2 separate regions of the Homo sapiens genome follow, and region 1 is linked to region 2. The links come from fine-mapping of genetic effects on gene expression. A gene starts in region 2. The other region holds a variant in brackets. All regions are shown on one strand. Distances are from middle to middle. Region 1 overlaps LOC105371406 (a long non-coding RNA gene). Region 2 holds the start of H2BC21 (H2B clustered histone 21).

Region 1 (5,523 bases), 120 kb before region 2:
ATGTTACCATAGAACTATCAATGCCAACTTTAACTATTTGAATCAGATGGCATAGCCTAGTTTCCTCTACAACTGACAGCACACTCTTTGGTATTTTGGTATTTTTCAGTGTCCTTGAAATGTTTAACTACCCACTAAAGAACAGGTCACATGGAATTAATAAACAAAGGGCTTCAGTTTCCATCAAGCACCTTCAAGTGACAGGAACAGGGATTTAAATAAAAGGATCTAAGTCAGCACAGGAAAGTGACTATGCTGCCAAAGTGACTCAAACTCAAAAGGACAGGATGAGACTTACTCAGAACTTCGAGGAAGTGTAGAGAAATTATCCACCACTTTTTATCCTAGAGGTGCTTTTGTGGTTGTGACCATACCGTAGAATGATTTGGGGATCCCTTCCAACTGGAAGGACATCTTAGACTGAGGGAACCCAAGAAACCTGATTTCGGTCACCCCTGACCATCATAAATCCCATGCAACAGGTCCATGCATTATCTAATGTTGACTCTGGGAATGGTCATTGTCATTGTTTCCTATTTGAATGGTTGTCACATTTCCTGCTTCAAATGATATCCAGAAATGATGGCTTGGGACCATATTCTCAATTTTTAGGTGGCAAATAGACTCCAGAGACATCACACATAATAAAATACTTGGACTTTGAAAGGAAAGAGTCAAGTCTATGACTTACAAGCTTATAAAGATCCCTCAGATGAGTTATGTACATGGATTGAGAATCAGAAAAGGAAGGATGCTCTCTCAGGAGATAGAAAAACCAGATAAAAGGAACAACTGAAATTATCTGACCCATCCCCTCATCGCCTGTGTAGAAGGGAAATGCTTACTTTATCTAACCAGTGGATAACAGACAGCCTCTTTCATTTTGGAGCTACCAAAAAGAAAAATAAATTGTGGTTTGGTTCAGTTCCCTTTTGACCAGTATGTTCTTGAAATTTCGAAAACATTTTACTCTTTTTCCTTTTAGTGTTTCAGTGTGGATAATTTCATTTGATCTATTTTCAAGTTCATTTTTTAGGCCAAAATTTGTCAAATATTGGCAATTTCATATGATTCAACTTAATATATTAACCTAATGTGCCAAATTCAAATTTGTTTCTATACTACTAAATAATATCCCCCGAAACGCTTTGCCAATTTACTCCTACTGACAGTGTATGAAAATATCCATTTTATTTCATCCTTTACAAGGTGCTATTATCAATAATTTATACTTTTACCAATCTGGGAAGTGAAAAAGACATTTAATTGTCTTGACTTGCATCTCCCTTATTACTGGTTAGTTTAAATTTCTATTCTCCGTTCATTTTTCTGTTTATTTTCTTTTGTAGTACCTACTACTTCTTGATATCTTTATTTAAGCTTTATATATTTACTTTTTACCTGTTAATTGTTGTAATCACCCACTAAAGAGTAAATTCTGGCTGGGCACAGTAGCTTACGCCTATAATCCCAGCACTTTGGAAGGCCCAGGTGAATGGATCACTTGAGGCCAGGAGTTTGAGACCAGCCTGGCCAACATGGTGAAACCCCATCTCTACTACAAATAAAAAAATTAGCTGGGCATGGTGATGCACACCTGTGATCCCAGCTACGCAGGAGACTGAGACACAATAAACGCTTGAACCAGGGAGGCAGAGGTTGCAATAAGCCGAGATCACACCACTGCACTCCAACCTGGGCGAGGAAAAAGAAAAAGAATCAGTTCCATCAGAGCATGGATTAAGTCTCATTCACCACTCTAGTGCCTAGAACATTTTATGTACTCAACATATAATAGTTAAATGAATGAATGAAAGTTAGACTGTAGGGGTGTCCATGAAAGTAGATATTAGCTAAGTTCCCAGAGATTGACTCCTCTTTTCCTGGTTCTCACACTTCAAGCTCTGTTAAGCCTGGAGGAGGGTGTTTTGTCTTTAAAAAGATACAGCTCCAGGTTACCCCTTTGGACCAGTTCCTGTTCTTAGGTATCAGACTTCCTCTATTCATGAATGGTGGATATATATGATTTCCTGTGATGTTTCTTTACATTATGACCATAATGAGCGTTGATTTTTAGTTCCTGATCCCCTCATGTAATGACTGTTCAATTAATGACTTTTTGCCATAATGGCTATTATAAAGCTATGTCACTTTTTGGACAACTCCTTTTTTATTATAATGATTTGTCACCCCAAAATAAATAAACATGCTATAAGAAATTATATTTTGACATCATGGTTTCAAGCAGACACTATGTAGGAGGATGTGTATGAATGAGCATGTAGGGAAGTGGCCAAAGAGGGGCCCACCCTCTGTAATCTGCTTTTTGATGCTAAGGTGAGGACTCTGCAAACCACATCTTTTTTTTGCTTGCTGGCTTTATTAGTTTCTGTCAGTAAGGGGTGTTAAAAAGAGACTGAAAGGCTGGAGGAGGGATATAGGTCTGGCTGCTTCCTATTTTGTTTCTTGTTTCAATTAGCATCATCCCAGCCATAATTTTTTACTCTGAGAGTGGTCATTGTTTCCAGTTTCATTTCTTTTCCTTTCTTACAATCCCGGAGCCAGCCTCATGGCCCCCTCTCAAAGGCATGAGCATCAGCCAGTGGACACCTCTTCTTCAGAGATCTGAGTCCCTGCGACACTAGGTACTTCCTCTGAGTTCCAAGGCCACCAGCAACCTCCTTCTCAGAAGCCATCCTCCCAGTTATGTGTGGCCCTTCATCCAAGTTACCAAGTTCTAACAACCCAACCATTTTACCTTTGTTTCTACAACCCTAGGGTTGATCACTGCTTCGCTTTCTACACTTACTATCTCTGTGTTACATCAGTTCCCCTTTTGCCTTCTTAGACCTCCAATACCTGTATAATTCCTTGTGTTAAATTCCCTCTGGTATACTGTTCATTTTCTATTTTTTTTTTTTTTTTTTTTTTTTGAGACAGGGTCTTGCTCTGTTACCCAGACTCAAGTGCTGTGGTGCAATCATAGCTCACTGAAGCCTTAAACTCCTGGGCTCAAGTGAGTGTGCCACCATGCCCAGCTAATTTTTATTTTTTTTAGACACAGTGTCTCACTCTTTTTCCCAGGCTAATCTTAAACTACTAGATTCAAGTGATCCTCCCATTTTGGCATCTCAAAGTGTTGAGATTACAGGTGTGAGCCACCATGCCCAGCCCATTTTCCTTTTAGACCCTGAATGACACACAGTACTACTCAC[C/G]AATTTACCTGACATGACCATTTGTAGTCAGAGAATATTGTGTGAAACAACTTTGAATTGCATGACTGTATTAGTCTGTTCTCACACTGCTAATAAAGACATACCTGAGACTAGGTAATTTAAAAAGAAAAGAGACTTGATTAACTCACAGTTCAGCATGGCTGGGGAGCCCTCAGGAAACTTACAATCATGACAGAAGGAGATGCAAATACATCCCTCTTCACATGGCAGCAGCAAGGAGAAATGCAGAGCAAAAGCGGGGAAAAGTCCCTTATAAAACCATCAGATCTCGTGAGAACTCACTATCATGAGAACAGCATGGGGGAAACCACCCCCACAATTCAATTACCTCCCACTGGGTCCCTCTCATTATGTGGGGATTATGGGAACTACAATTCAAAATGTGATTTGGGTGGGGACACAGCAAAACCATATCATTCTGCCCTGGCCCCTCCCAAATCTCATGTCCTCACATTTTAAAACACAATCATACCTTCCCAAAAGTCCCCCAAAATTTTAACTCATCCCATAATTAGCTCAAAAGTCCAAGTCCAAAATCTCATCCAAAGGCAAGTCCCTTCTGTCTATGAGCCTGTAAAATCAAAAGCAAGTTAGTTACTTCCTTGATACAATGAGAGTACAGGCATTGGGTAAATACAGCCACTGCAAATGGGAGAGATTGGCCAAAACAAAGGAGCTACAGGCCCCAGGCAAGTCCAAAATTCAATAGGGCAGTAATTAAATCCTTAAGCTCCAAAATAATATCCTTTGACTCCATGTCTCAAATCCAGATCACACTGATGCAAGAGGTGGGCTCCCATGATGTTGGGCAGCTCTGACCCTGTGACTTTGCAGGGTACAGCCCTCTTCCTGGCAGCTTTCACAGCTGGCATTGAGTGTCTGAGTCTTTTCCAGGTGCATGGTGCAAGCTGTCAGTGGTTTTACTATCCTGGGGTCTAGAGGATGGTGGCCCTCTTCTCACAGCTTTACTAGGAAGTGTCCCAGTGGGGACTCTGTGTCGGGGCTCCAACCCCACATATCCCTTCTGCACTGCCCTAGCAGAGGTTCTCCATGAGGGCTCTGCCCTTGCAGCACACCTCTGCCTGGGCATCCAGGCATTTCCACACATCCCCTGAAATCTAGGTTCCCAAACCTCAGATCTTGTCCTCTGCACACCTGCAGGACCAACACCATGTGAAAGCTGCCAAGGCTTGGGGCTCGCACCCGCTGAAGTCATGACTCAAGGTGTACCTTGGCCCCTTGTAGCCATGGTTGGAGTGGCTGGGACACAGTGCACCAAGTTCCTAGGCTGTACACAGCAGGGAGGTCTCTGACATGCCCTGAAGACCTTTTCCCCACTGTCTTGGCGATTAACATTTGGTTCCTCATTACTTATGCAAATTTCTGCAGCCAGCTTGAATTTCTCCCTAGAAAACAGGTTTTTCTTTTCTACCACATAGGCTGCAAATTTTCCAAATTTTTATGCTCTGTCACCTCTTGAACGCTTTGCTGCTTAGAAATTTCGTCTACCAGACACTCTAAATCATCTCTCTCAAGTTCAGAATTCCACAGATCTCTAGAGCAGGGGGTAAAATGCTGCCAGTCTCTTTGCTAAAGCATAACAAGAGACCTTTCCTCTAGTTCCCAACTAGTTACCATTTCCATCTGAGACCACCTCAGCCTGGACTTTATTGTCCATATCACTATCAGCATTTTGGTCAAAGCCATTCAACAAGTCTCTAGGAAGTTCCAAACGTTCCCACATCTTCCTGTCTTCTTCTGAGCCCTCCAAACTGTTTCAACCTCTGCCTGTTACCCAGTTCCAAAGTTGCTTCTACATTTTCAAGTATCTTTACAGCAGTGCCCCACTACCCAGTACCAATTTACTGTATTAGTCCATTCTCACACTGCTAATAAAGACATACCTGAGACTGGGTAATTTATAAAGGAAAGAGGTTTAATTGACTCACAGTTCTGCATGGCCAGGGATACCCCAGGAAACTTACAATCGCGGTGGAATGGGAAGCAAACGTGTCCTTCTTCACATGGCAGCAGCAAGAAGTACAGAGCGAAGTGGGGGAAAAACCCCTTATAAAACCATCAGATCTCGTGAGAATCATTCACTATCATGAGAACAGCATGAAGGTAACTGGCCCCATGATTCACCTACCTCCCACTGGGTCCCTCCCATGACATGTGGGGATTATGGGAGCTACAGTTGAAGATGAGATTTGGGTGAGGACACAGCCAAACCAAATCAATGACATATTTAGATGAACCCAAAATACTGTTTTTCATACACATGCCA
Region 2 (5,000 bases):
ATTGGTAACTTTATTAATAACAATAGCATCTATACACATTTGAAAACACACATGTAGGAGACAGTTAAGATCTATTCAGTCTGTGATAATGTCTAGAGCTCATTTGGATTCATCAAACCCCTGCCATCAGCTCCAAAAGCCCTTAGCCAAAAACAGCTGAATCACTCATCAAACCATCAGTGTCTTCCTCGGCAGAATCAAGGGTTGGACAGAAAGAGTAAATATTCTGCACCTCCACAAAATAAAACTAAAATGCAATTGTCCTGCATCTGAGAATACAAGGGTGGACAGTATGAGCTGCATGACTGTGAACCAATGAGGCTTCTCTTGGCCTCATTTGTAAAAAGGAGATTAACTCTGTAGTCCCGCCTATATTGCATGGCCTCCAGAAAAGCAAATGAGGTGGTAAGTGTAAATTAAAAGCTCCTCTCCTTTAAGAGGGGAACACCATGAGGGGAGAGTAAGAAAAGGAGAAGGAAAAGGCTCTTTCCAGTGACCAACACGCTGAATTTGATGAAAATCCATAAGAGGTTATGCTAAACTGAGAAGCATAAGGGTGGATCTACCATTGCCACCTCCTCTTTGTAGCAAAAAAAATCTTAACACGGCCCCCTCCCAGCTGTTGCACTGAGGTGACTAAGGATACATTTTGAGGAAGTAGCTCCAAGAACATTTCCATTTTCACTGTGCCTTCACATACATCTAATGGAAATGAACAGCACCCTTCATCCATCCACGGAAGCGATTAAGAAAAGGGTGGGATGGAAAAATTAACCCAACAATATTAGATCAATACGTAGTATTTAAGTGTCCATAATGTGCCAGGCTGAAGATGCACGGGAAAACCACACTAGCCGGTCTGTCAAGGGCTTGAGAATACCATAAACAAGAAAACAGACGAACCAATTTCAGACAGCTGCTAGAAGGAAGATAAAATGAGACAGGCAAGTATGAGAGGCGCGAATTCCTGAGTGGATGACGTAGGTCTCTGAGAGGTGACTTTTGAGCCCGTATCTACATGGTAAGTGCCTCGCAGTGACCTGGGGCCGTAGCGTTACCATTTAAAGCACAGACCATTAAATGCAGAAATTATCAACAAAATGAGAAATAGGAATTTCAAAGTCTCAAAGTGAACGACGGAAACTGAAATCTACAAATTAGAAAAAGGCGCAGAATTTTGAATATTCTTGTCGCCCAATCAGGACAAGGCTGGGACCCGGCTGCGCGGCCTTCGTCCAAAATACACAGAACGGCTGGTATCCACAGGAGGCCCCATCGCACGGCAGAACTGGTGACCGGACACAAAAGCTGCTGCCAAGCGTCAGTCATACAGAGCTGTCACGCAGTGTTTGCGGAACCCGGGCTGAATTGTGTCCTGGAGTTCTCTTAAATGACAGCCGAACTCAGCCACTTCGTTTTAGAATGAAACAGACCCAAGGAGCCACCAGGGCGCGTGTGGGGCGGGAGTGGGGGCGGGTAAAGAGGCGGATTCCCAACAGCCTAATTGAGAACCGACTCCTGGGAAGGCTAAGCAGCACAATGAGTAAAGACACGCTCTAGATTCAAAAGCAAATCCAATGACGCACTGGGGACCTCGAGTTCCAAATAGTTAAAAAGCTACGTATGCCATTTCCCATGACCTTCACACTAAAATAACTTACTTTATGAAAAGAAACTAAGGGAATAAGTGAACAAGCTCTTTTCTAGTGATTAGGTGGGTGGCTCTGAAAAGAGCCTTTGGAGTCAAGCAGCCGGCGACTCGAGCGAGCGAGCGCCAGGTCCCGGCAGGGACTCACTTGGAGCTGGTGTACTTGGTGACCGCCTTGGTGCCCTCGGACACGGCGTGCTTGGCCAGCTCGCCGGGCAGCAGCAGGCGCACGGCCGTCTGGATCTCGCGGGATGTGATGGTGGAGCGCTTGTTGTAGTGCGCCAGGCGGGAAGCCTCTCCCGCGATGCGCTCGAAGATGTCGTTGACGAAGGAGTTCATGATGCCCATGGCCTTGGACGAGATGCCGGTGTCGGGGTGGACCTGCTTCAGCACCTTGTACACGTAGATGGAGTAGCTCTCTTTGCGGCTGCGCTTGCGCTTCTTGCCGTCTTTCTTCTGGGCTTTGGTGACGGCTTTCTTGGAGCCCTTTTTAGGGGCCGGAGCGGATTTTGCCGGTTCAGGCATGGTAAGACACAGTACAAACGCGGCTTAGCCAAGAAAAGAAGTAAGAGAATGGGCGGGCCTGATTCTTTTATAACCACCTTATGCAAATTAGGGCTCCGAAAGTCGTTCATTTCCATTGGTCCGTGTGCGGACCTTGCGTTTTCAGCAATGCGTACGTAACAACACCGACTCTTGACTTGATTGGCCGGTTCTGAAGCCATATTAGGACCAATGAAAAACTCGTTCTTGACCCCACCCCTAGGAAAGCTTATAAAGGCTTTCCTCTTGGTTCTCTTTCAATCTTATTTTGTTGCGAGGTTCTGAGCGTTGTCTGTGTTTAACCTTGATTTCAGTCATGTCTGGTCGTGGCAAACAAGGAGGCAAGGCCCGCGCCAAGGCCAAGTCGCGCTCGTCCCGCGCTGGCCTCCAGTTCCCGGTAGGGCGAGTGCACCGCTTGCTGCGCAAAGGCAACTACGCGGAGCGGGTGGGGGCCGGCGCGCCCGTCTACATGGCGGCGGTCCTCGAGTACCTGACCGCCGAGATCCTGGAGCTGGCGGGCAACGCGGCTCGGGACAACAAGAAGACGCGCATCATCCCTCGTCACCTCCAGCTGGCCATCCGCAACGACGAGGAACTGAACAAGCTGCTGGGCAAAGTCACCATCGCCCAGGGCGGCGTTTTGCCTAACATCCAGGCCGTTCTGTTACCAAAGAAAACCGAAAGCCACAAAGCCAAAAGCAAATAAATGCAGACAAACAAACCAAGACCAAAGGCTCTTTTTAGAGCCACCCAAGTTTTCAAAAAAAGAGCTAATGCGCTATTTCGTGATCAGCCCTTCATTTGACACTTTGGTGGCTCTTAAAAGAGCCTTTGGGGTGAATGAGTATGGTGTCAAGCCTCTTAATTACTTGTTCTTGCCAGGCTTGTGACTCTCCGTTTTCTTGGGCAACAGGACAGCCTGGATATTGGGCAAGACGCCGCCCTGGGCAATGGTGACACCCCCGAGTAACTTGTTGAGCTCTTCGTCATTCCTCACGGCTAGTTGCAGATGGCGAGGGATGATGCGCGTCTTCTTGTTGTCCCGAGCCGCGTTGCCCGCCAGCTCCAGAATTTCCGCGGTCAGGTACTCGAGGACCGCCGCCAGGTACACCGGGGCGCCTGCCCCGACCCGCTCCGCGTAGTTGCCTTTGCGCAGCAAGCGGTGCACTCGCCCCACCGGGAACTGGAGACCAGCGCGGGACGAGCGCGACTTGGCCTTAGCGCGGGCCTTGCCTCCCTGCTTTCCGCGTCCTGACATTACGGCTAAAATTGCAGTTACAGCTTCTTTTACAAGGAGAAGAATGTGGAAAGAATAACCAATTTGATGTAATTTATAAGAGCTACCGGGAGGGGTGAAGGGAAGTCGTTTGATTGGCTAAAAGCGGAGCCGTATCTAACAGCCAATAGAAAAGCAGAAAGCCGCCTCTTGGTTTGCGTCCTGCACTGAAAGGAAATGACGGATTTTGTAAGTATCTACCAATCGCTGAGAGCCACATTAAAGCCCCTTATTTGCATGCCAGGATCTTTAAAGAGAGCAGGCTTTCAAACAAAATACTGGTTTTGTTTTACTGAGAGGCACTGTGGGTTTTTGTTTTGTTTTGCTTTGCTTTGTTTAGTTTACAGCCGGGAAATCCCAATATGGACCCTAAGGAACTGCAGAAGACATCCTTAGACGGAGAGTTACTCTCACGAAAGAGTAGGGGATTCTGAAGCCGATGATCCCCTTGAGCTCTAAACTGCCAAGTCCCGCCCTTTCTGTCTCGTCACAGCCAAATTCCCTTTAAAAATACATGTACTACTAAGGCTGCCTCCTTTCTCGCCCCTAAACTTAAGTCGCCCGCAGCGGCGTGTCTCCGCCCCACCCCCACCCGCCTGCACTCCTCGGAATCCGGTTTGACCGAGGCTAGAATAGATTTGTCATCCTCCTCTTGACCTCCAGGAGGCGGCCTTCAAACTTGCTCCCTTGGCTTTCAAAATGTCGCCCTGTTTTTCTTCTTACCTCGCCGACTTTTCTTATCCTGCTCCCCCATGCCACTGCCCATCTCTAAATCTGCGAGTCCAGCTGGACTGTTTCCCTGTCTCCAATTCTTCACTTATCCCGAAGAGTCTTACCCATTTATATGCTTTCAACTAACGTCCAAATTTGTTTCAGAAGCTCAGACCCTTATGCCTAACTGCTTACAGAATACTTCAACCTACTTATCCCAACGAGCACCTCAAACTCAAACTCTACCTCAGCCTATCCGAACGCGAACTCATACAAACAACCTCCCCTCTTTGCCCTCTTTTCCTGAAATGCACCAGCATACTTACAGATACCTAAGCCGAAATCTACTCTACTCTTCCCTTCGTCTTAGCATATCCAGTCAGTTGCTTCCTTAACATCCCTTCAGACTTTTTCTCCATGCTCCCTTGTCCACCTCATCATCATCCCTTAGATTTCAGCAACAGCCGGGAAAGGGTAATTTTGCCGTCAGGCACTAATCGCTGGCATGACTCCAGCGGTCTTAGAAATCTTTCCTGAAAGCTCTCCTTTTTTTCTTTTATCCCATATAACAGATGAACCTGAAAGCTCTTGTGTTTCTTCCTCCTCAACGTCCCATCTCTGGGAGTTCTACATCTCCTACACCATTCTCACCCTTTCCTTAGTATCCCTTAAGGTCAGGTAGAATGCTAGAGAGAAAAAATAGACTTGTGGGTTTTTTGTTCGTTTTTTGAGGCGGAATTTCCTCTGTCACCCAGGCTGGAGCACTATCTCAGCTCACTGCAACCTCCACCACCGCCTCCTCCACCCCGCCCCCACCCACCC

Evidence for each region. PIP is the estimated chance that this variant, and not a neighbour inherited with it, causes the effect. A credible set is the group of variants that fine-mapping cannot tell apart.
Region 1: its variant is the best candidate, but not a certain one, in a credible set for the expression of H2BC21 in whole blood (INTERVAL, PIP 0.77).

What each region holds. Positions count from the first base shown.
Region 1 is chr1:149,762,298-149,767,820 of GRCh38, forward strand. The region is part of intron 2 of LOC105371406 (a long non-coding RNA gene); the gene reads left to right. Among named protein-coding and RNA genes, the nearest start is that of FCGR1A, 18 kb to the right of the region's middle. The variant C/G (reference allele first, on the strand shown) is at 3,216.
Region 2 is chr1:149,884,468-149,889,467 of GRCh38, forward strand. H2BC21 (H2B clustered histone 21) reads right to left here and starts at 2,215. Exons shown (of 1, transcript NM_003528.3): 1 at 1-2,215. The coding sequence starts at 2,173. The coding sequence ends at 1,793. H2AC20 (H2A clustered histone 20) reads left to right here and starts at 2,451. Exons shown (of 1, transcript NM_003517.3): 1 at 2,451-2,944. The coding sequence starts at 2,508. The coding sequence ends at 2,897. H2AC21 (H2A clustered histone 21) reads right to left here and starts at 3,498. Exons shown (of 1, transcript NM_175065.3): 1 at 3,002-3,498. The coding sequence starts at 3,449. The coding sequence ends at 3,057. RefSeq lists enhancers at 759-808, 818-1,411, 1,189-1,268, 1,679-1,768, 1,839-2,128 and 6 more.